Homo sapiens: one gene and its partner. Changing the gene in region 1 together with any one later gene gives a genetic interaction. Each region holds a gene or a part of one and is shown in the gene's direction. Other genes may lie near its edges. The genes, in order: DDX19A and ARID1A.

Region 1 (15,594 bases):
GAGAAGGAATAGTCAGTGAGAGGAGGAGAACAAAACAAGTCCGAAAGCGGTAGCTCACACCTGTAATCCCAGCACTTTGGGAGGCCGAGGTGGGAGGATTCCTTTGGGCCAGGAGTTCAAGACCAGCCTGGGCAACATACTGAGACCCCATCTCTACAAAAGATTTCAAAATGAGCTGGGTGTGGTAGCACACACCTGTACTCCCAGCTACTTGGGAGGCTGAGGTGGGACGATTGCCAGAGCCCAGGAATTCTAGACTACAGTGAGCTCTGATTGCTCCACTGCACTCCAGCCTGGGTGACAGCAAGACCCCATCTCTAAAATAAATAAATAGAGACCTATCAGTGTGATGGTTTTTCTCCAGCCGTGCTTGACTGCCCAGGTGCTAGTGTGGAGAGGGAGAAAGAGTGGCTTCATAAGCCTGGGGTTTGCCAGATGAGTATGAAGATCTACTGGTTTCTTCCTGACAGAGGACAGAGCTGCCCAGTCCTTACTCAACAAGCTGATCAGAAGCAACCTTGTTGATAACACAAACCAAGTGGAAGTCCTGCAACGGGATCCAAACTCCCCTCTGTACTCGGTGAAGTCGTTTGAAGAGCTTCGGCTGTGAGTATTCGCTCCTTTCAACAGCTCTTCGTTGCCAGTCTCTCCCCACATAAAACTTAGCATCTGAGAGATTCTTGTGAGAATTTTACTTTTAAAAATTTAGTGTATTTTTTCCTTTTTTTTTTCGAGACAGAGTTTCGCTCCTGTTGCCCAGCCTGGAGTGCAATGGCGTGATCTCAGCTCACTGCAGCCTCTGCCTCCCGGGTTCAAGCGATTCTCCTGCCTCAGCCTCCCAAGTAGCTGGGATTACAGGCGCCCACCACCATGTCAAGCTAATTTTTTGTATTTTTAGTAGAGACGGGGTTTCACCATGTTGGCCAGGCTGGTCTTGAACTCCTGACCTCAGGTGATCTGCCTGCCTCGGCCTCTCAAGGTGCTGGGATTACAGGCGTGAGCCACCGTGCCTGGCTATTTTTTTTCTTTGAAAAGAAGTCACATGAATAAGTCACATGATTCAAAAGTCAAAAAGTATGAAAAAATTTGCAGTATTAATCTCCCACCCTTGTGTCCTTGGCTATCCTGTTCTCTTGGTAGGAATTTTTTAATGCTTCAAATTGATTTATCATAGCTAAAAGTCTTATTTCTCTTATACTCTTAGAACTTTCAATAAAATATTGGCTGACAGGTGATTTCTGGATGTCAGGAACATTTCTGATTAGGTAAGCCCTTAAGTGAGAACATGTGCTATTTGTTTTTTTTTTACAAAAAAAAAAAAAAAAGGCCAGGCACAGTGGCTCACACCTGTAATCCCAGCACTTTGGGAGGCCAAGGCAGGCAGATCACAAGGTCAGGAGTTCAAGACCAGCCTGACCAACATGGTGAAACCCTGTCTCCACTAAAAATACAAAACTCAAAACTTAGCCAGGTGTGATATCACAGGCCTGTAATCTCAGCTACTCAGGAGGCGGAGGCTGAGGCAGGAGATCACTTGAACCTGTGAGGCGGAGGTTGCAGTAAGCCAAGTTCGTGCCACTGCACTCCAGCCTGGGCAACAGAGCGAGACTCTCTCTCAAAAAAAAAAAAATATATATATATATATATGTATATTTAGACTATAGGGTTTACAGTCTTACAGTTTATCTGCTTTTTAAAAAATCTGTCAAATCTGTTTTTGGTTTGTTTTTTTTTTTTTTTTTTTTTTTTTTTTTTTTTTTTGAGACCAAGTCGTGCTCTGTTGCACAGGCTAGAGTGCAGTGGCGTGATCTCAGCTCACCACAACCTCCACCTCCCAGGTCCAAGCGATTCTCCTGCCTTAGCCTCCCGAGTTAGCTGGGACTACAGGCGTGTGCCACAACACCCAGCTAATTTTTGTATTTTTAGAAGAGACAGGGTTTCACTATGTTGGGCAGGCTGGTCTCGAATTCCTGATCTCATGATCTGCCCGCCTCGGCCTCCCAAAGTGCTGAGATTACAGGCATGACCCACTGTGCCCGGCCTTACGTTTTAGGTTTACTTCAGTAAATTAATAGAGGATTAAGTGTGGATCATTGTGTTATATACATGCCACTGTGCTGGATGTTACAAGGAACACAAGACCTACTTATTATTCTTGCTGCCTGCCAGGATCACAATCATAGAAAGTAGCTGATGAATAAGAATATGGTGGAATCAATGGATTCTTTGCCTTAGTTCAGCAAAATCTATAGTATGGCCACTATGGACAAATTGAAGCCACATTCCTTCCAGCTATTACCACTGAGAAAGAGACACTTAAAACAAGAAAGCTAACTAGTTGTTAAGTAATCTTGAAGAACAATTTTTTATTTTTATTTTTTATTTCTATTCATTTATTTATTTACTTTTGAGACTGTCTCACTCTGTTGCCCAGGCTGGAGCGCAGTGGCACAATCTTGGCTCACTGCAACCTCTACCTCCCGGGTTCAAGCGATTCTCGTTCCTCAGCCTCTCACGTAGCTGGGATTACAGGCCTGAGCCACCACACCTGGCTAATTTTGGTATTTTTAGTAGAGACAGCGTTTCATCATGTTGGCCAGGCTGGTCTCAAACTCCTGGCCTCAAGCGATCTGCCCGCCTCAACCTCCCAGGCTGCTGGGATTACAGGCATGAGCCACTGCACCCAGCCTTATTTTTTTATTTTTAAAAATAGAGATGTGGTGTCACTGTGTTGGCCAGGTTGCTCCTGAACTCCTGTGGTCAAAGAGTCCTCCTGCCTCAGCCTCCAAAATTGCTAGGATTACAGGTGTGAGCCACTGCACCTGGCCCAATAACTTTTTTTTTTTTTTTTTAATAGGATGAGGTTTTACCATGTTGCCCAGGCCAGACCAAAAATGTATTTTTAAACAGTTATACTTTAGGTCGGGCACGGTGGCTCACGCCTATAATCACAGCACTTTGGGAGGTCAAGGCAGGTGGATTGTCTGAGGTCAGGAGTTCGAGACCAGACTGGTCAAAATGATGAAACCCCATCTCTACTAAAAATACAAAAAAATTAGCCGGCTGTAATGGCACATGGCTTGTAGTCCCGGCTACTCAGGAGGCTGAGGTAGGAGAATTGCTTGAACCCAGGAGGCGGAGGTTGCAGTGAGCCGAGATCATGCCGTTCGTTGCACTCCAGCCTGGGAGATAAAAGCGAAACTCCTTCTCAAACGGAAATTATGCTTTTCTATGTGTTTTCTCTGTCAAGGACTTTATTCACCAAATCTGTCATCTCCACTTTTATTTTTAAGCTGTATCAGGACAGCTAGACATGTGGTATGATTTCCTTAGAGTGACAGTTTGCTCCTCCAAGTATCAACTGCCTTTTTAAATTTCTTCCCTTTAGAAGACGTGAGCTCTCAGTTTAACCACTGATGAATTGTCCTCTGTAAAAGACAGGTTCTCTCTGATTTAGTTGTTGGTAGGAAAAGGAAACAAAGAATGAAACCAAGATCACCTAATGTACTTGGTCTGCTTTGTACCTAAAATATTTGAGTTAATCTGCAAAATCAAAGAAAACTGAGTCAGTGGAAGCTGTTGGATCATTTGAGTCCCAATTAAGGTAGTGACTTTGTTTCCTTGGCAACCAAGTCAGAAGCTGCCGAGTGTCACAGCATTTTCTCCCAAATGGAAGATATGAAAGATTATGTTTTTAAATTTCTTTGTGTCTGAGAACCAACATACGCCAGAGAATTTGCCTTTTAGAGAGCCTGCTAAACTCCAAGGAAGGCTTAGAGAACAGTTGGGTTGCCTTTTCTTTAGAAACAATCTGGTATGATTTTTCTTAAACATCTTGTCAATTTAGAGGTAGCAGAGAGCTGATTGTAAATGCAATGTAAGAGCAACTTAAATTGATAATTCTTGTGTAGCTGTTTACATAAGAAGTTGGTGTCCAGGTGCGGTGGCTCACGCCTGTAATCCCAGCAGTTTGGGAGGCTAAGGTGAGTGGATCTCTTGAGCTCAGAAGTTCATGACCAGCCTGGGCAACATGGTGAAACCTTATCTCTACAAAAAATAAAAAAAAATTAGCCGGGTGTGGTGGCATGTGCCTGCAGCCCCAGCTACTCAAGGGTGGGAGGATCTCTTGAGGCCTGGGAGGTGTCGGTTGCAGTGAGCCCAGTTCACACAACTGCACTCCAGCCTGGGCGACAGAGTGAGAACGTCTCTCAGAAAGAAGTAGTTAGTGTTTGTCTGTTTATTTTGATTAGACCTAAGTGAATCTGAGCATTTGTAAAGTTTAGTAGGTTAATCGAACCACCTTTATTTACTGTATATCAGCTACTAGAAACTGGCTTCATCAATTTTCTTTTTTTATGGCCGGGCGCTACAGCTCACGCCTGTAATCCTAGCACTTTGGGAGGCCGAGGCAGGTGGATCACCTGAGATTAGGAGTTCAAGACCAGCCTGGCCAACATGGCGAAACCCTGTTTCTACTAAAAATACAAAAATTAGCCAGGTGTGGCAGTATGCGCCTGTAATCCTAGCTCCTCAGAAGGCTGAGGTAGGAGACTCGCTTGAACCCAGGAGGCAGAGGTTGCAGTGAGCCAAGATCACGCTATTGCACTCTAGCTTGAGCAACAGAGCAAGACTCCATCTCAAAAAAAAAAATTTTTTTTTTCTTTTTTCTTTCTTTCTTTCTTTTTTTTTTTTTTTTTAAGAGATGACCTGGCCTTGTTGCCCAGCCCAGAGTGCAGCGGGGCAATCATGGCTCGCTATAGTCTCTAACTCTTAGCCTCAGGCAATCCTCCTGCCTCAATCTCCCAAGTAGCTAGGACTACAGGTGCATGCCACCATGCCCAGCTCATTTTTCTTTTTTGTTTTGTTTTGTTTTGTTTTGTTTTAGAGACAGGGTCTCACTGTGTTGCCCAGGCCGGTCTTGAACGCCTGGACTCCTCAAGCAGTCGTCCCACCTAGGCCTCCCAAAGTGCTGGGATTACAGGCGTGAGCTACCACGCCCAGCCCATCAATTTCCTTACCTATTGATTGTCTGGAGTATTTGCATAGCTGGCTTTGGAAGGAACATGGAACAAAAGGACTTCTAAATCTTAGCAGTATAGTAAATAGTGTTTATTTTCATTTATTATTTACTTTAGAGTCCCACTCTGTCACCCTGGTTGGAGTGCAGTGGCTCAGTCACAGATCACTGCAGCCTTGACCTCCTGAGCTCAAGTGAGCCTCCCACCTCAGCCTCTTGAGTAACTGGGACTACAGGTGTGTCCAGCTATTTTTTGTATTTTTTTGTAGAGACGAGGTATCACCATGTTGCCCAGGCTGTTCTCGAACTTCTGGCCTCAAGCAGTTGGCCTGCCTTGACCTCCCAAAGTGCTGAGATTACAGGCATGAGTCACTGTACCTGACCTGTTTTTAGATATATCTTTTATAATTTATGTAATGCTATGAATTAATAACCACCACCCTTGCTGTGTCCAGGGAACACTTGTCTTCCAAGGCCAGCCAGATTTGCGGGTCTGCTGAAAGCATTAATTTCTCTAAGAAAAGAAACCATTCTGTATTTTATGAATTATAGAATAGTTGCAGATTAAGATTCCTTAGGGAAGGGCGGTAGCTTGGTTTGATTTGGTTTGGTTTTTGACAGTGTTTTTTTAAGGCATAGGAAAATACGTCTGACAGAGGTAGGAGGCATCATTCCTTTCTATAGAAAAAGATAAGATTCTAGGCCTCTAAAACAATTCTAACTTCTAGGCATCCATCCTCTGTCTTCCTGGCTTCCTAGGAAACCACAGCTTCTCCAGGGAGTCTATGCCATGGGCTTCAATCGACCCTCCAAGATACAAGAGAACGCATTACCCATGATGCTTGCTGAACCGTGAGTATGCAGATGAAGCGCATCTCACCCAGTGTGATTAGATCAATCTTCCCCAAACTGCGTTTTTGTGCCTGAGAACAGAAGGAGCTGTTTGGGGCCACGTGTTTCCTCAGGAATACAGCTTAGGCAAGTGCAGAGAGAATCGGATGGAGTTAGCTACAGTTTCTGCCTTTCCCACTTAACAATAGAAACTTATAGAGAAAGGTAGTGCTTTATTCCATGCTATCTTAAAAACTGGGCTTAAGGCCGGGCATGGTGGCTCACTCCTGTAATCCTAGCACTTTGGGAGGCCGAGGCGGGCGGATCACCTGAGGTCAGGAGATTGAGTCCAGCCTGGCCAACATGGCAAAACCCTGTCTCTACTAAAAATACAAAATTAGCTGGGCACGGTGGCCCAAACCTGTAATCCTAGCACTTTGGGAGGCCAAGGTGGGCGGATTGCCTGAGCTCAGTAATTCGAGACCAGCCTGGGCAACATGGTGAAACCCCGTCTTACTAAAATCAAAAAAAAAAAAATATCCAGGCCTGTTGGCATGTGCCTGTAGTCCCAGCTACTCAGGAGGCTAAGGCAGGAGAATTGCTTGAACCCGGGAGGCAGAGGTTGCAGTGAGCCGAGATGGTGCCACTGTACTCTAGCCTGGTGACAGCAAGACCCTGTCTCAAAAAAAAAAAAAAACTAAACTAAAAATACAACAATTAGCCTGGCATGGTGGCACGTACCTGTGGTCATGTAGCTGAGGCAGGAGAATTGCTTGAACCCCAGAGGCAGAGGTTGCAGTGAGCCGAGACATGCCACTGCACTCTAGCCTGGGAAACATAGACTCTGTCTCAAAAAAAAAAAAAAAAAAAAAACTGGGTTTAAAAAATATTATTTTGATGTGAATGGTGTTGCAATAAATTCAAAAACAAACAAAATATTATTTGGAAATTTTTGAGACCTACACAAAGGTGTAAAGAACAATACCAAGAACACCTCTGTAGCCCTATCCTGCCAAGAAAGGAAGCAGGTCCAGTTGATAGTTGAAGCCCCTGAATTCCCCTCCTTCCACATCCTTCTCCCACCCTGACAAGACTAAGTTCCTTTTGAGACAGGGTCTCATTCTGTTTCCCCATCTAGAGTGCAGTGGTGCAATTACAGCCCACTGCAGCCTCGACCTCCTGGGCTTAATTAATCCTCTCACCTCAGCCTCCGGAGTAGCTGGGACTATAGGCATGTGCCACCATGCCCAGCTGACTTTAAAAAAACTTTTTTGTAGTTTGAGAAGCTGAGGCAGGTGGATCACTTGAGGTCAGGAGTTTGAGACCAGCCTGGCCAACATGGTGAAACCCCGTCTCTACAAAAAATACAAAAAAATTAGCCGGGCTTGGTGGCGCACACCTGTAATCCCAGCTGCTAGGGAGGCTGAGGTGGGAGGATCGCTTGAACCCAGGAAACAGAGGTTGCAATGAGCCAAGATTACACCATTGCACTCCAGCCTGGGCGACAGAGTAAGACTCTGTCTCAAAAAAAAAAAAAAAATTTGTAGAGACAGGGTATCACTATGTTGCCAGGGCTGGTCTCAAACTCCTGGCCTCAAGTGATTCTCCAGCCTCAGCCTCCCAAAGTGTTGGGATTATAGGCATGTGTTACTGCACCTGGCATATTTATCATTTTTTCTTTTTTGAGATGGAGTCTCCTCTGTCGCCCAGGCTGGAGTGCAGTGGTGCAATCTTGGCTCATTTCAACCTCTGCCTTCCAGGTTCAAGTGATTCTCCTGCCTCAGCCTCCTGAGTAGCTAGGATTACAGGCGCACACCACCACACCTGGCTAATTTTTGTATTTTTTTGTCTGTTCGTTTGTTTTTGGGATGAAGTCTCGCTCTGTTGCCCAGGCTGGAGTGCAATGGCGCGGTCTCAGCTCACCGCAACCTTCGCCTCCCGGGTTCAAGTGATTCTCCTGGCTCAGCTTCCCGAGTAGCTGGGATTACAGGTGCCTGCCACCATGCCTGGCTAATTTTTGTATTTTTAGTAGAGATGGGGTTTTACCACGTTGGCCAGGCTGGTCTCGAACTGCTGACCTCGTGATCTGCCTGGCTCAGCCTCCCAAAGTGCTGGGATTACAGGCGTGAGCCACCGCACCCAGCCTAATTTTTGTATTTTTAATGGAGGTGGGGTTTCACCATGTTGGCCAGGCTGGTGTCGAACTCCTGACCTCAAGTGATCTGCCCACCTTAGTTTATTTATTTATTTATTTATTTATTTTTTTGTGAGATGGAGTCTCGCTCTGTCGCCCAGGCTGGAATGCAGTGGCGCAACGTCTGCTCACTGCAAGCTCCGCCTCCCAGGTTCATGCCATTCTCCTGCCTCAACCTTCCCAGTAGCTGAGACTACAGGTACCCGCCACCACGCCCGGCTAATTTTTTATATTTTTAGTAGAGACGGGGTTTCATTGTGTTAGCCAGGGTGGTCTCGATCTCCTGATCTTGTGATCCGCCTGCCTCGGCCTCCCAAAGTGCTGGGATGACAGGCGTAAGCCATATTTATCTTTTTTAATGACAACCATGCCACCTATTCCCATGATGCTGGGTCCCATAAAATGGAATGTAAAAGTTCCCTCTAAAACATCCACCTGACTTAGCATCTTGTCCATAAAACTGGGGAAAGGCACACACAGAAGGAACCAAATTCTGGGAATGCATCATGGCTCAGCCAAAAATATTGCTGGGGTCTTGTCTGGGCACAGATCTTACTCTGCACACTTGATTTCCCTGTGCCCCTTGGGGTGCAAAACTGGGGTCCTTTAGCTGTGCTAGAGGCTAGAATGAGAATTTCTTGGTGTGAGCCCATTTAAAATAATCATTTATTTTACAATTTAAGCAGCTTTTTAACAGCGTATAAAAAAATGTATGAAAGTAATTTGTGCTCAATGGAGAAAACCTGGGTAATATAGAGAAGCACGAAGGGGGAAATATGCCTTTCATTCAGAAAGAACATTTTGACATGTTACTGAGTTTCACCAATTTAAGTTTCATTTCTGTTCTTCCTTGATCCAGCCCACAGAATCTGATTGCCCAGTCTCAGTCTGGCACTGGTAAAACAGCTGCCTTTGTCTTAGCCATGCTCAGCCGAGTGGAGCCATCAGACAGATACCCCCAGGTGAGGGCTTGCGGGGCTGGGTGTCCTAGGTTGCCTGCCCTGGGGAGCGCAGTGCCATCTGGTGAGGAGTAACGAGAGGTCTGAAGCTTCTGACACCTTAGGCTGTGGCTCAGGCAGAGCAAGTTCCTACACCAGGCCCTGACCTGGGAGAATGTGCTTGAAAGCAGCAGCCTTAGACCATGGCTTGCAAAGGCCTCTGCCAAGCCAGGGCTACCTGCTGCAGGCTTCAGTCTATGGCTGAAAGGTGGGCCTGGATGGGAGGACATGCTTCCCTGTGCTATTCAAGTGCTAATAACATCAGCATACTGGGTGCCTTCAGGTCTGTTACCAAATGGCTCTCCTAAACTCATCCTTTATGATTTTTCTGTCAGTGTCTGTGCCTCTCCCCAACATATGAGCTGGCGCTTCAAACAGGAAAAGTGATTGAGCAGATGGGCAAATTTTACCCAGAACTGAAGCTTGCCTATGCCGTTCGAGGCAATAAATGTGAGTACGGCAGGCGACAACTGAACAGTGAGCAGGGTAGGGGGTTGGGCGTTTGAATTTTGAAGATGCGATGACCGTATTCAACTTTCTAATTCAGTCTGACCCTGGAGCCTAACTGTGTTGCTCTATTTGAATCTATTTGAATACCTGCTAATTTGTTAACAGTCTTTTTCAGTCTTAAAATAAGATTTTCGGTTGATTAAAAAAAAAAATCCACGCATGGCTCACAGAGTTCTTAATATCTAGAGTTCTTCGCTCAGAAGGTAGAGTTTTGAATTTAGCGTCCAGAGTTCTGGGACCTGCTACCAAAGAGGGATTAACAGGACTGAGGATGGAAGGTTGGGGTCAGCTCCCTTTCTTTAAAAGTAAGCAAAACCAGGTACAGTGGCTCACACCTGCAATCCCAGCCCTTTGGGAGGCCAGGGTGGGAGGACTGCTTGAGCACATGGTTCGAGACCAGCCTGGGCAACATAGTAAGACAAAAAATAAAAAAAAAAAAATAGCCAAGCGTGGAAGTGCCAGCTTGTAGTCCCAGCTACTTGGGAGGCTGAGGCAGGAGGATCGCTTGAACCTGTGTGGTCAAAGCTGCAGTGAGCCATGACTGTGTCACCGCACTCTAGTCTGGGCAACAGAGTGAGACCCTGTCTCAAAATAAATAAATAAATAAACATAAAAAGAGTTGGATGATGTTGGATTATAGGAGGAAGAAGAAGGGAACTGATGCTTATTGAAGGATTGCTGTGTGGGATTTGATCCTGACCACAGTGCACTGAGATAGGTGTCATTCTGCCCACTTCACAGCAGAAGAGACCAAGACTGAGGGGAACACTCATGTGTGTTTTGAAATCTGGAAATAACTTGTTCTCCTAGTCCTAGAAGGATGGGCAGGGCTTTGATTTCCAGAGCTGGCTTTGCCTTTGAAATACCTATGAAAATCACCTGGGTCTCCACAGTGGAAAGAGGCCAGAAGATCAGTGAGCAGATTGTCATTGGCACCCCTGGGACCGTGCTGGACTGGTGCTCCAAGCTCAAGTTCATTGATCCCAAGAAAATCAAGGTGTTTGTTCTGGATGAGGCTGATGTCATGATAGCCACTCAGGGCCACCAAGATCAGAGCATCCGCATCCAGAGGTAGGGATCTCGAGGGTGGGGGACTCCTCAGACTCCCCATCTGCAGTGTCTTCTCCCTTCACTTCAGACGCCTCCTCTGGCTTCTGCCTGGGTCTTGGCTCTCGTACTCTCAGCAGCATTTGTTTGACGGGCCATTTCCATGTCAGCGCTGATCACAGTCCCTCCCAACCTGGGTTGAGAAAGGAGACCTAGGGACTCTTCCCCAACCCTTGTCCCCATCCCAGGCCTGCTGCTCCTCCTCCCCAAGATGCTCCTCCCCCATCAGCCTTCCTGGGCATCTAGACCCTCCCAGCTGGGGAGGCTGTGCTTCCGTTGCTTCCCAGGGCCACCTGGGGCCATCTACCCGGGCCTTCCCTTGCAGGATGCTGCCCAGGAACTGCCAGATGCTGCTTTTCTCCGCCACCTTTGAAGACTCTGTGTGGAAGTTTGCCCAGAAAGTGGTCCCAGACCCAAATGTTATCAAACTGAAGCGTGAGGAAGAGACCCTGGATACCATCAAGCAGTACTATGTCCTGTGCAGCAGCAGAGACGAGAAGTTCCAGGCCTTGTGTAACCTCTACGGGGCCATCACCATTGCTCAAGCCATGATCTTCTGCCATGTGAGTAGCAGCGGCAGTGGCAGGCCTGGCCCCTCCCTCTCAGCCAGCTCCCCACAGGGCTCAGGAGGACTGGATGCCCCTGAGCGCCATGGAAAGAAGGGAAGTGCTTTTTGAAGATGTAAGAGACAGGCTCTCCTTTAGTGGGGGTAATGGTAGTATCCCAAGGGATACATAGCCTAAAGATAGAGCCCCTGAACTTTATGTCTTATTTGTGGATGATGTATTGTTGCACAACCCAAGAGAATCAACTCATATTTGTAAGAAAAATAAAAAATTCAACAAGATGGCCGGGTACGGTGGCTCATGCCTGTAATCCCAGCATTTTGGGAGGCCGAGATGGGTGGATCACGAGGTCAGGAGATCGAGACCATCCTGACTAACACGGTGAAACCCCATCTCTACTAAAAGTACAAAAAATTAGCGCGGCGTGGTGGCGGGCGCTTGTAATCCCAGCTACTCGGGAGGCTGAGGCAGGAGAATGGTGTGAACCCGGGAGGCAGAGCTTGCAGTGAGCCGAGATCACACCACGGCACTCCAGCCTGGCAACAGAGAGAGACTCCGTCTCAAAAAAAAAAAAAGTTCAACAAGATAGTCATAACATTCACACACATAGTTTTCCAGTCTCAAACAACAAATACTTAGAAAATGGAAGCATAGATCTCATTGATAATAGAAAAAATAAATATTTAAGATCTCTGAAGAAAATGTCAAAATGATTTTAGAATAAAAGAGACACCGGAGCACGGTGGCTCATGCCTGTAATCCCAGCACTTTGGCAGGCCGAGACAGGCGGATCACCTGAGGTCGGGAGTTGGAGACCAGCCTGACCAACATGGAGAAACCTCGTCTCTACTAAAAATACAAAATTAACTGGGTGTGGTGGTGCATGCCTGTAATCCCAGCTACTCGGGAGGCTGAGGCAACAGAATCACTTGAAGCTGGGAGGCGGAGATTGCAGTGAGCTGAGATCGTGCCCCTGCACTCCAGCCTGGGTGAGAGAGCGAGACTCCGTCTCAAAAAAAAAAAAAAAGAGGCCAGGCTTAGTGGCTCACGCCTGTAATCCCAACACCTTTGGAGGCCAAGGTAGAAGGATTGCTTCAGCCCAGGAGTTTGAGACCAGCCTGGGCAACGTCGGGAGACCCCATTTCTAAAACACTTAAAAAAAATTAGCTGGATGTGGTGGCACACACCTGTAGTCTCAGCTACTCGGAAGACTGAGGTGGGAGGATCCCTTGAGCCCAGGAGTTAGAGGCTGCAGTCAGCTGTGATCACGCCACTGCACTTAGCATGGGTCATAAAGCAACACTCTGTCTCAAAACAAGGAAACATACAATGCAATGATACAGTGATAACAGTAATATATCTCTCAAATATAATCCACGTTCTCCTATCTCCACTTGTGCCAAAAGTATTCTTTTTTTTTTTGAGACCGAGTCTATCTAGCTCTGTCACCCAGGCTGGAGTGCAATGGTGTGATCTAGGCTCACTGCAACCTCCGCCTCCTGGGTTCAAGCAATTCTCCTGCCCCAGCCTCCAGAGTAGCTGGGATTACCAGCGCCCGCCATCATGCCCAGCTAATTTTTGTATTTTTGGTACAGGGGGTTTCACCATGTTGCCCAGGCTTGTCTTGAACTGCTGACCACAGGTGATCCAACTGCCATGGCCTCCCAAAGTACTGGGATTACAGGCATGAGCCACTGCGCCTGACGCCAAAAAATACTCTTTTTTTTTTTTTTTAGACGGTCTCACTATCTTGCCCAGGCTGGACTCAAACTCCTGGGCTCAAGCAATTCTCCTACCTCAACCTCCCAAGTAGGTGGGACTCCAGGCACATGGCACTGTGCCCAGCTCATCTTTATTGCTTTTTGTTTTGTTAAATCCAAGAGCCAGTCAAGTTTTGCTTGTTGCATTTAGTTGTCATGTCTCTTAAGACTCCTAAATCTAGAAGAATTTCCTCACCTTTATTTTATTGCCTCTCATTACAATGACATCTTGAAGCATCCAGGGTAGTCTTTTCTTTTTGAGATGTAGTTTTGCTTTTGTTGCCCAGGCTGGAGTGCAGTGGTGCAATCTCGGTTCACCACAACCTCTGCCTCCCGGGTTCTAGCAATTCTCCTGCCTCAGCCTTCCCGGGTAGCTGGGATTACAGGCATGTGCCACCACACCTGGCTAATTTTGTATTTTTAGTAGAGACAGGGTTTCTCCATATTAGTCAGGCTAGTCTCAAACTTCTGACCTCAGGTGATCCGCCCGCCTCGGCCTCCCAAAGTGCTGGGATTACAGGCGTGAACCACCGTGCCCGGCCAATCTGGTTTTTTTTTTTTTTTTTTTTTTTTTGAAACGGAATCTCGCCTCTTGCCCAGGCTGGAGTGCAATGGCATGATCTTGGCTCACTGCAGCCTCTGCCTCCCGGGTTCAAGCGATTCTCCTCCCTCGGCTTCCTGAGTAGCTGAGATTACATGCACATGCCACCACGCCCAGCTAATTTTTGTATTTTTAGCAGAGACGGGGTTTCACCATGTTGGTCAGGCTTGTGTTGAACTCCTGACCTCGCGATCGGCCCACCTCGGCCTCCCGAAGTGCTGGGATTACAGGCATGAGCCACCGCGCCTGGCCCCCAGGGTAGTCTTTTACTCCTAGGCTCAAGTGATCCTTCACTTGATCTCCCAAATTGCTGTGGTTATAGGCGTGAGCCACCGTATCTTGCCCCAGGTTAAATATTTTTGTGGTATAAATTTTCTTTTTTTTTTCTTTTCTTCTTTTTTTTTTTTTTTGGAGACAAGGTCTTGCTCCGTCACCCAGGCTGGAGTGCAATGGTGCAATCTTGGCTCACCAGCCTCGACCTCTCAGGTTTAAGCGATTCTCCTGCCTCAGCTCCCTCAAGTAGCTGGGACTTACAGGCCTACACCACCATGCCTAGCTAAATTTTTTGTAGAGACAGGTTTGGCCATGTTCCCCAGGCTGGTCTCGAACTCCTGAGTTCAAGCGATCCACGTGCCTCGTCCTCCCAAAGTGCTAGGAGTACAGGTGTGAGCCACCATGCCCAGCCAGGTACAAATATTTTCGTAAGATTACAAGCCAGGTGACATTGTTACTTCCTGTTGCACTATATCGGGTTTACAATTTTAAGAAATTTAGCTTTTAGCTGCTAAGTTTCAGGTACAGTCTTCCAGATCAAAAATATCTTCAGCTGAGCGTGGTGCCTCACACCTGTACTCCCAGCCCTTTGGGAAGCCAAGGCAGGATAATGACTTGAGCCCAGGACTTTTTAGATCACCCTGAGTGACAGCAAGACTGTGTCTCAAAAAGAAAAAATATATACTCAAATACTTTCATTTCTCAATTGTTTTTTTTCTTCCAGACTCGCAAAACAGCTAGTTGGCTGGCAGCAGAGCTCTCAAAAGAAGGCCACCAGGTGGCTCTGCTGAGTGGGGAGATGATGGTGGAGCAGAGGGCTGCGGTGATTGAGCGCTTCCGAGAGGGCAAAGAGAAGGTTTTGGTGACCACCAACGTGTGTGCCCGCGGTGAGCAGAGGACGTGTCCCACCTGGTCTGCCAGGCTCGGGGTCCCAGGCCCAATTAGAGCCAGAAATCCTTGTATACAGGGAAGTCGGATGGTCTCAGGGAGATGGGTGGGGTTGGTGACACTATTCCTTTCTAGGAGAGACTGTTTGGATTTCCCTGAGGTGGTAAGAACTCACACATGCCAGGTGCGGTGGCTCATGCCTGCAATCCCAAGGCAGGAAAATTGCTTGAACCCTGGAGACAGAGGTTGCAGTGAGCCGAGAATGTGCTATAGCACTCCATCCTGGGTGACAGAGTGAGACTCTGTCTCCAAAAAAAAAAAGGAAGAGGGCAGGCCCAGTGGCTCACGCCTGTAATCCCAGCACTTTGGGAGGCCGAGGTGGGCGAATCACCTGAGGTCAGGAATTCGAGACCAGCCTGACCAATATGGTGAAACCCCATCTCTACTAAAAATACAAAAATTAGCCGGGCGTGGTGGCATGCGCCTGTAATCCCAGCTACTCAGGAGGCTGAGACAGGAGAATCGCTTGAACCCGGGAGGTGGAGGTTACGGTGAGTGAGATCGCGCCATTGCACTCCAGCCTGGGCAACAAGAGCGAAACTCCGTCTCAAAAATAAAAAAAGAAAGAAAGAAAAGGAACTCCCGCAGAAACCAGTAGTCCTGACTTGGTGGAAGGAAATGTACAGGCATCTGACTGGTAGAGAACGGAGCCTACTCTTCCAGGGGCGCCCATCTCCAGAACATTGTGTCTCCCAGAGGATTACCGACTGATCTCATGATTTTGTTGGCACTTGCCAAAGTTCTCTTCTTTTCCTCTGGGTTCTGTTGCCTGCCTATATGTGTGCCCTC
Region 2 (15,594 bases), on another chromosome or scaffold:
ATAACATATATGACCTTAAGGTGTGTAACCACTCTGAACCTTAATTTCATTATTTGTAAAATACAAACAGTATGTAACAGTATATAACCCACTAGACTGTCAAAAGTTAGAAATAACTTTGGCTTTCAGCAAGGTTTCTGCCACATAAATCGGCCTGCAAGATGGTACAGAGGCAGCCAGAGTAGAAGTAGATCTTCCCATTCCTGGAAGCTTCCCAGTAGAGATAGGATTTCAGGAACTGCTTAGTAGAAATAGTTTATAATAAAGGAAGAAGTAGTAGGAAATTATGTGTTTAGTTATTCTGTATGGGAAACTTAAATGAAAACCTGAATTGGACACCACCCAGAGCTTGTGCCTACTCTGATACCTTACAATTTTGTAGACTCAGCCCAGGAAGCAAACAGGTGAGGCAGCACAGACAGACAGCAGACTGTGCCTTGCAGACTTCCCTCCTGTGTATGTTCTGTAGTCACCAGACCAGAAGCCTGCTGTTGGATCAGTTTGTGGCTGAGCTCGGGGAGGTGTGGCAGGGAGGGATTTATTCCAAACCTTCTAAATCAGAAGAGGAAAACAGCTGTCACCAGCAGAAAAGAAAGTGGTTGGAATGAAGCCAGCCAACAGTCAGTTATGAATTCCTTCTCCCTTCAGGCTTTATTCCCCTCCCCCACAAAGGAAAACAAAACAAAATAAGACACGTGCATACTGCCACATAACTGGCATGAGAAGCAAAGCCACGGAAGGCTTTTGAGGTGACTCCATGCATATTCCTGCCATTCTCCCTGATACTCAGATCTCATAGTCAAGCCTTCCCTGTCTATAGGGAAAGGGAGCATTGGGTTAGGTTTCGCTCACTTCTGATTGGGTGGGCTTCAGGGTTCACTGAACCTAGGATGAGGTACAGAGAGAATTCTAATGCCTGAGCCTGTCTTCCAGATTGGAAAAGGATGCAAACCTTTAAAATGCCGTGATTGTAACTGAACTTTTATAAAGGCAGTGATAATTCAGGGGCAAAAGAGTGCTATTTATAAGTTAGTTTGTGAAGGCTCCAAGAAAGCAAAGCTGAATCTTGAGCTTATCTAAAGGATTAGTAGGGTTTAGGTGGAAGAGTGGCCAATCCAGTAGACTGGCCTAGATGCCACGGAGATGGGAGAGAGTCTAGATATTTCCCACCAAGGCCATCTCCAACCATGAAGACTTAGCTCAGGTGTTACCCACTCTAAGAAGTATTCCTAGTCACCTCTGCCCCTCTAGGTTGTCCCCCTCTGTGCCTCTTTAAACTCTTCTTTCTAGTATCATAGGTATCATATCAGCAGACATTACAACCTATTGAACTTCCTTTGTGTATAGGGACTTGAAAACCCTTGTTCCCAGGCCTTGGGGGAACAGGCTTACCATATGGTAGATGAATAAGCATAAGAATACATGAAGAAGGAGACCTGTCCAGCTAGAGCAGAAAGACTAATTGTAGGGAGCATCTGGGGAATGGGCTTGGTCAGTGTGCCCTGAAGCTGAGGGAAGGAGGCAGAACTGTAGGTTGGCTGCTCGGGAGGTACAAAAGTCATAATAAGGCCCCGGGCCAGGCGCAGTGGCTCACACCTGTAATCCCAGCACTTTGGGAGGCCGAGACGGGCGGATCATCTGAGGTCAGGAGTTTGAGACCAGCCTGGCCAACATGGCCAAACCTTGTCTCTACTAAAAATATAAAAATCAGTGGGGTGTGGTGACAGGCACCTGTGGTCCCACTACTTGGGAGGCTAAGGCAGGAGAATCACTTGAACACGGGAGGCGGAGGTTGCAGTGAGCCGAAATGGCGTCACTACACTCGAGCCTGGGTGACAGAGTGAGACTCTGTCTCTAAATAAATAAGACCCTGAACACCCGGACCATCAGGACAGTGACTGGTAAGGGAAAGGGACCTGTGGTTATTTGTCAATGAGATATGTAGGGGAGCAGTGGCACAAGAATGTCAAATTTGCAGGGAGCCACCACCCCAAGAAAAAAATATGAGTAAATCCCAAGTTTGACAAAGCAAGTCAAGCAGGGTGGTCACTGATATTATCATGAGTCTCCATTTTATAAAATGTTAGTTTTTATTAGTGCATCTAAAATAGGATTTAGGGCCAGGCGCGGTGGCTCACGCCTGTAATCCCAACACTTTGGGAGGCTGAGGCGGGTAGATGACTTGACGCCAGGAGTTTGAGACCAGCCTGATCAACATGGTGAAACCCCGTCTCTACTAAAAATACAAAAATTAGCCAGGCGTGGTGGTGCACACCTGTAATCCCAGCTACTCGGGAGGCTGAGATAAGAGAATCGCTTGAGCCCGGGAGGCAGAGGTTACAGCGAGCCAAGATCACGCCACTGCACTCCAGCCTAGGCGACAGAGCGAGATTTATTTTTTCTGTCTCAAAAATAAATAAATAAAATAGGATTTAGATATCCAGATGATTTGTACACCACTTTTTAGCAGCGTACTAAAAAACCGGACTCTGAATTCTGTTCCAGTAGTAATGTGAAATTTGCCCTGTTGTGAATAAGCACAGTCTGATAGTTGCAGTGGAACATCCTGAGGGTAAAATGAAGCCAGCTGCAGATTTAACACTTCTTGTGGACTATCCACCAAGCAAGATTAACTTTTTCAATTACCTAAGAACTGTGGTTCTACAAAGATGAATACCTTACAGCCTGATGGGGCTTGGGGCTTATGGGCAGGAAAACCAGGCGGGAGATATACCTCGACTCCTTTGGTTTGGTTATACAGGTCAACAAGAACAAAAAATGGCGGGAACTTGCAACCAACCTCAATGTGGGCACATCAAGCAGTGCTGCCAGCTCCTTGAAAAAGCAGTATATCCAGTGTCTCTATGCCTTTGAATGCAAGATTGAACGGGGAGAAGACCCTCCCCCAGACATCTTTGCAGCTGCTGATTCCAAGAAGTCCCAGCCCAAGATCCAGCCTCCCTCTCCTGGTAAGGATGGGGTCAGCGGCCCCACCAAGGCTGAGAGGGCCTGTTGCCCTGGCCTCTTATTCAGGATATGAATAAGAGGCTTATCCAACAGGATATGCCAAGGATCTGTGCTCTGCCTTGCCCTACCACAGGGCTTAACAGGTTGGCTGACTAGAGAGTGGGCAGTGGAAACTCCCTTGGGAGGTACTCTACGGCAGCTCTTAAGTTTTAATTTTTGTTGTGCAGCTGACAACTTGCCAAATGTTTGTAAACTGGTGAATGGGAGGGGCACAAGAGGAGTCGGTGGAACTTATAAATGGCAGCAAGGCAGGGCCATCTGGGAGCTTTGGCCTATTGATGTCAGCACCTTAGAATGCAGCTCAGACTAGAGCCCTGAATTCCCCAGGGAGCTGAGATGGTAATGAATGGGAAGGAGGGAGTGGGGAAGGGTTATGAATGGAACTCCCTGATGGGAGTGGCTCTGCTCACCCTCCTTTCTGAGAGGAGGCTGAGGCCTAGGGTGAGCCTAGAGAGGGAAGAAGGCCAGGGTGCCTGGAAGGTGGGTGTAAACACATGTGCCCTGGTGTTGACCTCTGAGGGTGTAATGAGTGCCTGAGATGACTCATCAGCTGGGGAGGCCTCAGCAGTGGGATATCTACTGCTGGGAATGGTAACTATTGGAAACATTAATTACTAGTAGTTTTGTACTCATCAGCTTAGAAGAACATTTGAAGTTGAGGAGTGACACCATGCTGGATGCTTTAGAACAGGAGCTCCTAGACTCCTAAAATGCATCCCAGATTTGGGACCCCCTTCCCACCCAGGACTTGGGAGGCTCTGACTGGAGCTCATGCACCAGCATTACAGGGTTTAGTAGGTTAGACAAGGTCCTTTGGCGGAGTGAAGAGAAATAGCCAGGGAAGCTGGCAATGACTCAGGGAATCACCAGCATGGTGATGTCATGGCCACATCACTCCTCTTTTCTACACGTAAAACAAAAACAAAGAGCTACAAAACCCTCAGATTCCCGTCTTTATGACCTGGCCTTGTAGATCCTCTGCTAAGAAGGGTGATCAGGCTTTAAAGGCCTTAGGAAGAACTTTCCCAAAGAGATTCTGGGTCGTTCGTGTGTTTGTGTGAGAGTTAAACACTGTCATGCCAAGCAAACTACTCAACTTGTATCTCTGTCCACAGCGGGATCAGGATCTATGCAGGGGCCCCAGACTCCCCAGTCAACCAGCAGTTCCATGGCAGAAGGAGGAGACTTAAAGCCACCAACTCCAGCATCCACACCACACAGTCAGATCCCCCCATTGCCAGGCATGAGGTAAGGCCAAGAGCAGGGGCAGATGGTTGGGAGGATGGCTGAAGATAAGTGCATGGGAACTCCTTGCAGCCCAAGGTGGTCCTTGCCTCTGCCTTCCCAGCCAGTGACTCCTGCGTGTCCTTTGTTATATTGGAGGAATTGGTTTATTTGTGGTTTACTTGGTTTTCCTCACTCTGGAGCAGGAGCAATTCAGTTGGGATCCAGGATGCCTTTAATGATGGAAGTGACTCCACATTCCAGAAGCGGAATTCCATGACTCCAAACCCTGGGTATCAGCCCAGTATGAATACCTCTGACATGATGGGGCGCATGTCCTATGAGCCAAATAAGGATCCTTATGGCAGCATGAGGAAAGGTGACTGATCTGATTGCTATTTGAACTTGTGCTCGTAAAGACAGGGCCAGTGAAATGGGGGGAAATCTTGAGAATGGCTCAGGGTTCTTGTGGAGCCATCCTCTGAGATAATGCATTTCCTGCCCTAACTACCCCTCTTCATCCTTACCTCCTTTCTTGTCTTCTCCTTGGCTTCACCTTGTCATCCCTTAATAAGTACATGCTTTTCGCTGGTTGGGGCCTCTTTAGATCTCTGTTTTGAACTTGTCTGGAAAACAATGAGATCAAACCTGAACTCTGAAGAGGGCCTGGGTCAAAGGGTAGATTACCAGGCTTGTCAACTTACCAGTTTGTTCACCGCTTGCCTTTCTACGCTCAGCTCCAGGGAGTGATCCCTTCATGTCCTCAGGGCAGGGCCCCAACGGCGGGATGGGTGACCCCTACAGTCGTGCTGCCGGCCCTGGGCTAGGAAATGTGGCGATGGGACCACGACAGCACTATCCCTATGGAGGTCCTTATGACAGAGTGAGGTAAGCATGACCCCAGCTCCTGTCCACTCCCCCAGCACCCTGAAGCTATAGTGGGCTCAATCTGCCTCTCCAATTTTGTTTAGGACGGAGCCTGGAATAGGGCCTGAGGGAAACATGAGCACTGGGGCCCCACAGCCGAATCTCATGCCTTCCAACCCAGACTCGGGGATGTATTCTCCTAGCCGCTACCCCCCGCAGCAGCAGCAGCAGCAGCAGCAACGGTGAGTAAAGCCTGGTCTCGGTGCTGCTATGGATCAGGCTTCGCCACTGCCCACCCTAATCCTGTGTTTCTTTGCCTCCTATAGACATGATTCCTATGGCAATCAGTTCTCCACCCAAGGCACCCCTTCTGGCAGCCCCTTCCCCAGCCAGCAGACTACAATGTATCAACAGCAACAGCAGGTGAGGAGGGTAGCTGGGAATGGACTGGCATGCAGGTTCGCCTTGAAAACTAGTTAGTAAACTAATCTAACGTGTTGAAGTCTAAGAAGCTCACTTTAGATATTTTGGCATTCTTCTCTCACCTGACTGGCCAGTCCTGCCTGAAGAGCCACGTCCTCAATCTCTTCTCTATTTGGAGTTGGAAGGGGCTAGAAATAGACCTTATTTTGATTTTTAGGTTTTGTATATTTTTCTACTTAAGCAAGGGAAGGGAAGAAAGAGTGGTGGTTGCTTTTGGAAACAACTTCAAAAGACAATTTGTTAAGGTGATTCCCATGTTTTCTTGGAGTCTGTGTCCACCAAGCATCTGGTTGTAGCCATCTTGGCATCTGTGGGCTTTATGTCCCTGAGTGCAGAGTATTAACTTCCCCTCTGCTTGTCTCTGCCTTAGAATTACAAGCGGCCAATGGATGGCACATATGGCCCTCCTGCCAAGCGGCACGAAGGGGAGATGTACAGCGTGCCATACAGCACTGGGCAGGGGCAGCCTCAGCAGCAGCAGTTGCCCCCAGCCCAGCCCCAGCCTGCCAGCCAGCAACAAGCTGCCCAGCCTTCCCCTCAGCAAGATGTATACAACCAGTATGGCAATGCCTATCCTGCCACTGCCACAGCTGCTACTGAGCGCCGACCAGCAGGCGGCCCCCAGAACCAATTTCCATTCCAGTTTGGCCGAGACCGTGTCTCTGCACCCCCTGGCACCAATGCCCAGCAAAACATGCCACCACAAATGATGGGCGGCCCCATACAGGCATCAGCTGAGGTTGCTCAGCAAGGCACCATGTGGCAGGGGCGTAATGACATGACCTATAATTATGCCAACAGGCAGAGCACGGGCTCTGCCCCCCAGGGCCCCGCCTATCATGGCGTGAACCGAACAGATGAAATGCTGCACACAGATCAGAGGGCCAACCACGAAGGCTCGTGGCCTTCCCATGGCACACGCCAGCCCCCATATGGTCCCTCTGCCCCTGTGCCCCCCATGACAAGGCCCCCTCCATCTAACTACCAGCCCCCACCAAGCATGCAGAATCACATTCCTCAGGTATCCAGCCCTGCTCCCCTGCCCCGGCCAATGGAGAACCGCACCTCTCCTAGCAAGTCTCCATTCCTGCACTCTGGGATGAAAATGCAGAAGGCAGGTCCCCCAGTACCTGCCTCGCACATAGCACCTGCCCCTGTGCAGCCCCCCATGATTCGGCGGGATATCACCTTCCCACCTGGCTCTGTTGAAGCCACACAGCCTGTGTTGAAGCAGAGGAGGCGGCTCACAATGAAAGACATTGGTAAGGAGATCTTCCTCATTCGGTTGCCTAATCTGCCCCTTTCCATCTTGTCCATTGTTCCCTCCACCTTACTATTCTGGATGAGGTTGAATCTGGTCCAGTGTTGACTAAAATAGAACCAAAGAACTTTGGAAAAGGAAGAAATAAGCTAACTAAAGGTTCTCCTTCATTGCCATGCAATGAAGTCCTAGACAGACAGCTTAGAAGCCATGAGGGGCTGGTGTGTTTCATCTCCCAGACAGAAACTGCCTTCCACCTTGTGTTATCTTCAGAGTAGCTTCACTGATGGGGCAGCCCTAGGGGTGCCTCCAGCCAACCTGGGCTTGGTGGATAGACGACATGGAGGTTTATTTCAGGAACCCCGGAGGCATGGCGGGTAATGATGTCCCTCAAGTCTGGTCTCCTGGCAGAGAGCACATGGGCATTAGATACCATCAACATCCTGCTGTATGATGACAACAGCATCATGACCTTCAACCTCAGTCAGGTGAGTATCAGTGCCTGGGGAAGATTGAGAGGGTTTGGGATCTTCTTAGTGTAGACAATGGGAATGTCTCATCTTTAGCCACCTTGGTCTTTCTCTTTCTCTCTTGTAGATATCTTCCATGCCAGTACTTTGCTTCCTTTGCCTCTGGGCACGGGCCCAGGATTTTGACAGCAATAATAATTTGTTTACATGATAACCTTAACACAGGATTGACTTCAAAAGGAATTTGGGAGACACTTTGTGGTATTAGTAAGAATTCAGATTCAATCGATGCCAGTGGGGACACCACATTTTCTAGAAGAATCTGTGTTTTTTTGTTTTTTTAATAGAGACGAGGTCTCACTATGTTGCCGAGGTTCATGAACTCCTGAGTTCAAGTGATCCTCCCAAAGTGCTAGGATTACAGGCATGAGCCACCAGGCCCAGCCTGAATCTGTGGTCAAATTTTTATCAGTGAGCAGAGTATGTTTTTTCCATTTTTCCCTTTCTTCTCTGAACAGTAGGGGCCTTTGTTGATCCCAGTTTTCCTTAGATGTAGAGTGGATGGGGGATTTGATTGTTTAACAATATTCTTTTTTTTTTTTTTTTGACTGAGTCTCTCTGTCGCCCAGGCTGGAGTGCAGTGGCGCTATCACAGCTCACTGCAACTTCCGCCTCCTGGGTACATGCCATTCTCCTGCCTCAGCCTCCCAAGTAGCTGGGACTACAGGCGCCCGCCACCACGCTCGGCTAATTTTTTGTATTTTTAGTAGAGACGGGGTTTCACCGTGTTAGCCAGGATGGTCTCGATCTCCTGACCTCGTGATCCAGCCGCCTCAGCCTCCCAAAGTGCTGGGATTACAGGCGTGAGCAACCGCGCCCGGCCCTACAATATTCTTACAAAGCTGATTCTTCAGACCCACCCTCCATAGGATGTGCACACTAGTGGAGGTGCTGGAAAGAGTTTGTGCTGCATCATCCTACTCTTTTTCTTTTGATCATCTTTAGTACCTACCAACCTGTATATCAAGGAGCTGACTTATTAATAGTTACCATTTATCGTGCTCTTATTTTGTGCCAGGTCCTTAATATTTTGTTTCATGTCATCCTAGCAACAGCCCTCAGAGGTAGGAGGTATGGCCATTTAGGGATGAGTAAATAGGCTCAGTCTTATCCTTGTTGAGGTTCACATAGCTGTCAGTAGAATCTATCTGATTCCTAAGCCTGATTTTATTTCCATTGCATAATATTGCCTACCATGAGAAAGGAAAAATTTTGATAGAGCAATTTTCATATGCCAGGTATTTGACATCTCCCATTTACACCTCAGAACAACCCTGTAAAGTTTAGGAATTTTTATCATTTTATACAGCTACTTCCTGGAAAAGCCAGAATTTTTTTTTTAAGAGACTCTGGCACCTAGGCTGGAGTGTAGTAGTGCCCTCATGGCTCACTGCAGCCTCAAACTCCTGGGCTCAAGCGATCCTCTTGCCTCAGTCTCCTGAGTAGCTGGGACTACAGGCAAATGCCACCATGTCCAGCTATTTATTTATTTTGAGACAGGGTCTCCATTACTCAAGCTAGAGTGCAGTGGTGCAATCACAGCTCACTGCAGTCTCAACTTCCGAGGCTCAGGTGATCCTCCCACCTCAGCTTCCCAAGTGGCTGGGACTACAGGTGCGTGCAAACATGCTCATGCTCAGCTAATTTTTTTTTTTTTTTTTTTTGAGAGATGAGGCTTCACCATGTTGCCCAGGCTGATTTCAAACTCCTGGGCTCAAGTGATTGACCTACCTCAGCCTCTCAAAGTACTAGGATTACAGGTGTGAGCCACCGTTCCAGGCCCCGGATAACTTCTTTATTTTTTTATAGAGGCAGGGTCTCACTGTGTTGCCCAGGCTGGTCTCAAACTCCTAGGCTCAAGTGATTCTCCCACTTCAACCTTCCAAAGTGTTGGGATTACTGGCTGGGTGCAGTGGCTCACGCCTGTAATCCCAGCACTTCAGGAGGCCGAGGCAGGAGGATCATTTGAGGTCAGGAGTTTGAGGCCAGCTGGCCAACATGGTGAAACTCCATCTCTACTAAAACTATAAAAATTAGGCTGGGCGCAGTGGCTCACGCCAGTAATCCTAGCACTTTGGGAGGCCAAGGTGGGTGGATCACTTGAGGTTAGGAGTTCAAGACCATCCTGGCCAATATGGTGAAACTCCATCTCCACCAAAAATATAAAAATTAGCCGGGCCTGGTGGCACACACCTCTAATCCCAGCTACTTGGGAGGCAGAGGCAGAAGAATCACTTTGAACCCAGGAGGCAGAGGTTGCAGTGAGCTGAGATCGTGCCACTGCACTCCAGCCTGGGCAACAGAGCGGGACTCTGTCTCAAAAAAAAAAAAAAAAAAATACACACACACACACTCTCACACACTAGCCCGATGTGGTGGCAGGCGCCTGTAATCCCAGCTACTTGGGAGGCTAAGGCAGGAGAAAAATCGCTTGAACCCAGGAGGCGGAGGCTGCAGCCAACTGAGATCACACCACTGTACTCCAGCCTGGATGACAGAGTGAGACTTCATCTCAAAAAAAAAAAAAAGTGTTGGGATTACAGGTGTGAGCCACTGCTTCCAGCCCCTAGATCTAATTCGAAAGCCCTTATTTTTTTTTCCATCTGCTCTACTGTTCAGCCAAAGATTGTGACTGGAGAGGAGTGTTTTCTTCTAGAGGTAAATAAATGGCCTATATATTATCCAAGGTGGAATTTGGGTCTCTGTAGCACCAGCTTGGACCAGTGTTTGGAGAGCTGAAGCCTCGTCCCACTCCTTATGCTGCAAGATCCATGGAGTTCCAGCCCCCTGGACTTGTGGGGAGCTTGGAGAAGAGAGCCATGAACATCTGCCCACATGGCATTCTCTTCTCTTAGCTTAAGTCACCATGCCTAAGCTTGGGTTCCACTTGGCAGTGAGATGGAGAGAGTGTCCTAAAAGAGATAATGGCAATGACCACCAGGTTGAAAACTGGCCTGGTGAAGAAAAGCAGAAGATTAATTGGGAAAAGAGAAGGCTAAGAGATGATTGGCCCTGGTGGGTGAGGTGCAAAGCTGTTGGCTAGTGTTCCTGGAGATAGGCTTACGTGAAGGTAGGTTGGGCAGAAGAAAGAACTTTGTGTTGGGCATAGAAGAGATTAAGATGAACAATTTGCTCTGTGGAGAACCTTTGGGAAAGGAGCAACTCTGCCTCTCCCAACTGATACAGAAGACTTGGGGAGGTCTCTCAAGTCAATAATTCTGTTCTTAGGCCACTTTTCTCCCTTAATTTATTTCCTGTTCTTTCTCTTTTTAGCTCCCAGGGTTGCTAGAGCTCCTTGTAGAATATTTCCGACGATGCCTGATTGAGATCTTTGGCATTTTAAAGGAGTATGAGGTGGGTGACCCAGGACAGAGAACGCTACTGGATCCTGGGAGGTTCAGCAAGGTGTCTAGTCCAGCTCCCATGGAGGGTGGGGAAGAAGAAGAAGAACTTCTAGGTCCTAAACTAGAAGAGGAAGAAGAAGAGGAAGTAGTTGAAAATGATGAGGAGATAGCCTTTTCAGGCAAGGACAAGCCAGCTTCAGAGAATAGTGAGGAGAAGCTGATCAGTAAGTTTGACAAGCTTCCAGTAAAGATCGTACAGAAGAATGATCCATTTGTGGTGGACTGCTCAGATAAGCTTGGGCGTGTGCAGGAGTTTGACAGTGGCCTGCTGCACTGGCGGATTGGTGGGGGGGACACCACTGAGCATATCCAGACCCACTTCGAGAGCAAGACAGAGCTGCTGCCTTCCCGGCCTCACGCACCCTGCCCACCAGCCCCTCGGAAGCATGTGACAACAGCAGAGGGTACACCAGGGACAACAGACCAGGAGGGGCCCCCACCTGATGGACCTCCAGAAAAACGGATCACAGCCACTATGGATGACATGTTGTCTACTCGGTCTAGCACCTTGACCGAGGATGGAGCTAAGAGTTCAGAGGCCATCAAGGAGAGCAGCAAGTTTCCATTTGGCATTAGCCCAGCACAGAGCCACCGGAACATCAAGATCCTAGAGGACGAACCCCACAGTAAGGATGAGACCCCACTGTGTACCCTTCTGGACTGGCAGGATTCTCTTGCCAAGCGCTGCGTCTGTGTGTCCAATACCATTCGAAGCCTGTCATTTGTGCCAGGCAATGACTTTGAGATGTCCAAACACCCAGGGCTGCTGCTCATCCTGGGCAAGCTGATCCTGCTGCACCACAAGCACCCAGAACGGAAGCAGGCACCACTAACTTATGAAAAGGAGGAGGAACAGGACCAAGGGGTGAGCTGCAACAAAGTGGAGTGGTGGTGGGACTGCTTGGAGATGCTCCGGGAAAACACCTTGGTTACACTCGCCAACATCTCGGGGCAGTTGGACCTATCTCCATACCCCGAGAGCATTTGCCTGCCTGTCCTGGACGGACTCCTACACTGGGCAGTTTGCCCTTCAGCTGAAGCCCAGGACCCCTTTTCCACCCTGGGCCCCAATGCCGTCCTTTCCCCGCAGAGACTGGTCTTGGAAACCCTCAGCAAACTCAGCATCCAGGACAACAATGTGGACCTGATTCTGGCCACACCCCCCTTCAGCCGCCTGGAGAAGTTGTATAGCACTATGGTGCGCTTCCTCAGTGACCGAAAGAACCCGGTGTGCCGGGAGATGGCTGTGGTACTGCTGGCCAACCTGGCTCAGGGGGACAGCCTGGCAGCTCGTGCCATTGCAGTGCAGAAGGGCAGTATCGGCAACCTCCTGGGCTTCCTAGAGGACAGCCTTGCCGCCACACAGTTCCAGCAGAGCCAGGCCAGCCTCCTCCACATGCAGAACCCACCCTTTGAGCCAACTAGTGTGGACATGATGCGGCGGGCTGCCCGCGCGCTGCTTGCCTTGGCCAAGGTGGACGAGAACCACTCAGAGTTTACTCTGTACGAATCACGGCTGTTGGACATCTCGGTATCACCGTTGATGAACTCATTGGTTTCACAAGTCATTTGTGATGTACTGTTTTTGATTGGCCAGTCATGACAGCCGTGGGACACCTCCCCCCCCCGTGTGTGTGTGCGTGTGTGGAGAACTTAGAAACTGACTGTTGCCCTTTATTTATGCAAAACCACCTCAGAATCCAGTTTACCCTGTGCTGTCCAGCTTCTCCCTTGGGAAAAAGTCTCTCCTGTTTCTCTCTCCTCCTTCCACCTCCCCTCCCTCCATCACCTCACGCCTTTCTGTTCCTTGTCCTCACCTTACTCCCCTCAGGACCCTACCCCACCCTCTTTGAAAAGACAAAGCTCTGCCTACATAGAAGACTTTTTTTATTTTAACCAAAGTTACTGTTGTTTACAGTGAGTTTGGGGAAAAAAAATAAAATAAAAATGGCTTTCCCAGTCCTTGCATCAACGGGATGCCACATTTCATAACTGTTTTTAATGGTAAAAAAAAAAAAAAAAAATACAAAAAAAAATTCTGAAGGACAAAAAAGGTGACTGCTGAACTGTGTGTGGTTTATTGTTGTACATTCACAATCTTGCAGGAGCCAAGAAGTTCGCAGTTGTGAACAGACCCTGTTCACTGGAGAGGCCTGTGCAGTAGAGTGTAGACCCTTTCATGTACTGTACTGTACACCTGATACTGTAAACATACTGTAATAATAATGTCTCACATGGAAACAGAAAACGCTGGGTCAGCAGCAAGCTGTAGTTTTTAAAAATGTTTTTAGTTAAACGTTGAGGAGAAAAAAAAAAAAGGCTTTTCCCCCAAAGTATCATGTGTGAACCTACAACACCCTGACCTCTTTCTCTCCTCCTTGATTGTATGAATAACCCTGAGATCACCTCTTAGAACTGGTTTTAACCTTTAGCTGCAGCGGCTACGCTGCCACGTGTGTATATATATGACGTTGTACATTGCACATACCCTTGGATCCCCACAGTTTGGTCCTCCTCCCAGCTACCCCTTTATAGTATGACGAGTTAACAAGTTGGTGACCTGCACAAAGCGAGACACAGCTATTTAATCTCTTGCCAGATATCGCCCCTCTTGGTGCGATGCTGTACAGGTCTCTGTAAAAAGTCCTTGCTGTCTCAGCAGCCAATCAACTTATAGTTTATTTTTTTCTGGGTTTTTGTTTTGTTTTGTTTTCTTTCTAATCGAGGTGTGAAAAAGTTCTAGGTTCAGTTGAAGTTCTGATGAAGAAACACAATTGAGATTTTTTCAGTGATAAAATCTGCATATTTGTATTTCAACAATGTAGCTAAAACTTGATGTAAATTCCTCCTTTTTTTCCTTTTTTGGCTTAATGAATATCATTTATTCAGTATGAAATCTTTATACTATATGTTCCACGTGTTAAGAATAAATGTACATTAAATCTTGGTAAGACTTTTGTGAAGCTTTTTATTGTTTTCAAACTAAAACTTGACCTTTTGTCGGGGGGCAGGGGGATAGTCCTGTTTTTGCAAACCTCCCTTAGTGTGAGATCTCCCCTAAATAGTGGCATTCCTGGACCCTGTCATTTATTTACTATATTCCAAAATAAGACAACCATTTATCTGGAGGCAATCTCCAACTTAATCACTTATAATATCTCTGGACTGGCTCTTTTCCCTGACTCCAGACTAGAGCATTCAGCCACCTTTCTTGTCATCCCTGCTTGGAAGTTTACTTTGAACATGCCAAAGCTAAAATGTCCTGTCTTCCCCCACTAGAAACCTGCTTCTCCCATAGTTTTGGTTTTTTTGTTTGTGTTTTCCTTTTAGTAAATGGCAACTCCATTCTATCACTTGGCTAAAAAAATCCTTGACTTCTTTCACTTCCACATCCAATCTGTTAGCACTCTTCATAAAATAATCCTCAATCCCACACTACTGTAGTTCAAGATACTGTCATATCTTGGATTCTTGAAATACCTCCAAATTGGCCTCCCTGCTTCTGCTTTGCCTGGTTGAACCTATTCTCAACAGAGCAACCAAAAGGACCCCTATAAAAGGTAAGTCAGATCAAACGCCTTCAGTGCTTCTGACTCAGTAAGTAAAAATCCAGACTCTTAAAAAGTGGCCTACAAGGCCCTGAGTTATCTAGCTTACCTCTACCTTTCCTGCACCATCTGTCTTGCCCGTTGCTCACCCCACTGTATAGAGATGTTTCCACCTTGGAGTCTTTGTACTTTATACTCTCTCACCAAATAACTGCATGGCTCAAGTCCTCGACTGCTTCAAGTCTTTGTCCAAATATATAAGTAAGGCTTTTCATGGTCACCTTACTTAGAATAGCAATCTCTGCCCCCCACTATGTTTCCCTTGTCTGCCTTATTTTTCCTGTGGCACTTGTTACTGTCTGGCCTGTTGTGTGTTGTACTTACCTGTCACCTTCCACTGAAATGTAAACTGAGGGTGGTGGGAGGGGTGTTTTGTTCACTGCTGCATCCTGGTGCTAACACATAGACTGGCACATAGCATCTACTTAAGTAGTAGTTGAATGATACTGTCGATGTTGGCTAGATGCAGTTGCTTTTATGAGGCTAATGTCACAATATATAGTTTCTCTGTTCACCCCCTTCCTTAGGGAAACAATAGAGAAGCCTCAAGTTCCTCAGGAGAAATCAGAAGCAGAAAGAGAAAAAATGCTATCATTGTGGACACTTAGAAGTGAAATTTGAAACAAGAAACAACAGTTTTCTATTGTGTACCTACTTATATTCTGGACATAGCACATCACAATCCTACAACAATCCTGTGCCTGTGAAGTCAGTATGTGGCTCCCATTTTACAGTTGAAGAAAGAGGCTAAGAAAAGTGAAAGGCTTTTTAAGTTCATACACCAAGCAAGTTCCACCTGACTCCAAGGATCATGCTTTTCTTAATATACCACACTACCTCCTTTCTGGATGAGAACCCAACCCAGGAGTAAGGGATCTAGCTGTGGAGCTCAGCAAGCAAGATTTGTTTTTATTGTCTTTAGCACGAGGTAAAATTGTCCTCAGAATTTCAATCAAGTGTTCATCAGACTAAGTGTGGCTGTTAATATTTGGGTCAGGAACAGGATTTGAATAATTAGTATTTCTCAATTGAGAGAGGAAAACCTTTGTCAACCAAGATGCGTTCCTAGGATTCTTCTAGAAAAAGGTAAATGGGAAGCTTTTCATATCTACAATTTTGGTAAGCAATATTGCTAATGGCTATTTTTGTTCTAGGCCTCGAGCTCCGTTTGCTAGTCTAGAAATTGCATA

What was found.
Region 2: changes in DDX19A (region 1) and ARID1A together harm fitness more than expected from each alone (negative genetic interaction), as found in Homo sapiens cells (2 studies listed by BioGRID).

Annotation. Positions count from the first base shown.
Region 1 is NC_000016.10:70,355,642-70,371,235, forward strand, and holds part of DDX19A (ATP-dependent RNA helicase DDX19A), read left to right. Parts: intron 1-470; coding exon 471-606; intron 607-1,204; exon of another isoform or gene 1,205-1,242; coding exon of another isoform or gene 1,243-1,265; intron 1,266-5,776; coding exon 5,777-5,869; exon of another isoform or gene 5,870-5,995; intron 5,996-8,901; coding exon 8,902-9,004; intron 9,005-9,375; coding exon 9,376-9,490; intron 9,491-10,291; exon of another isoform or gene 10,292-10,370; coding exon of another isoform or gene 10,371-10,443; coding exon 10,444-10,621; intron 10,622-10,982; coding exon 10,983-11,220; intron 11,221-14,581; coding exon 14,582-14,744; intron 14,745-15,594. UniProt on the Homo sapiens protein: ATP-dependent RNA helicase involved in mRNA export from the nucleus.
Region 2 is NC_000001.11:26,768,358-26,783,951, forward strand, and holds the end of ARID1A (AT-rich interactive domain-containing protein 1A), read left to right. Parts: intron 1-2,761; coding exon 2,762-2,969; intron 2,970-4,142; coding exon 4,143-4,275; intron 4,276-4,454; coding exon 4,455-4,630; intron 4,631-4,988; coding exon 4,989-5,139; intron 5,140-5,222; coding exon 5,223-5,360; intron 5,361-5,444; coding exon 5,445-5,541; intron 5,542-5,971; coding exon 5,972-6,863; intron 6,864-7,219; coding exon 7,220-7,350; intron 7,351-10,665; coding exon 10,666-12,399; 3' UTR 12,400-13,747; downstream 13,748-15,594. UniProt on the Homo sapiens protein: Involved in transcriptional activation and repression of select genes by chromatin remodeling (alteration of DNA-nucleosome topology).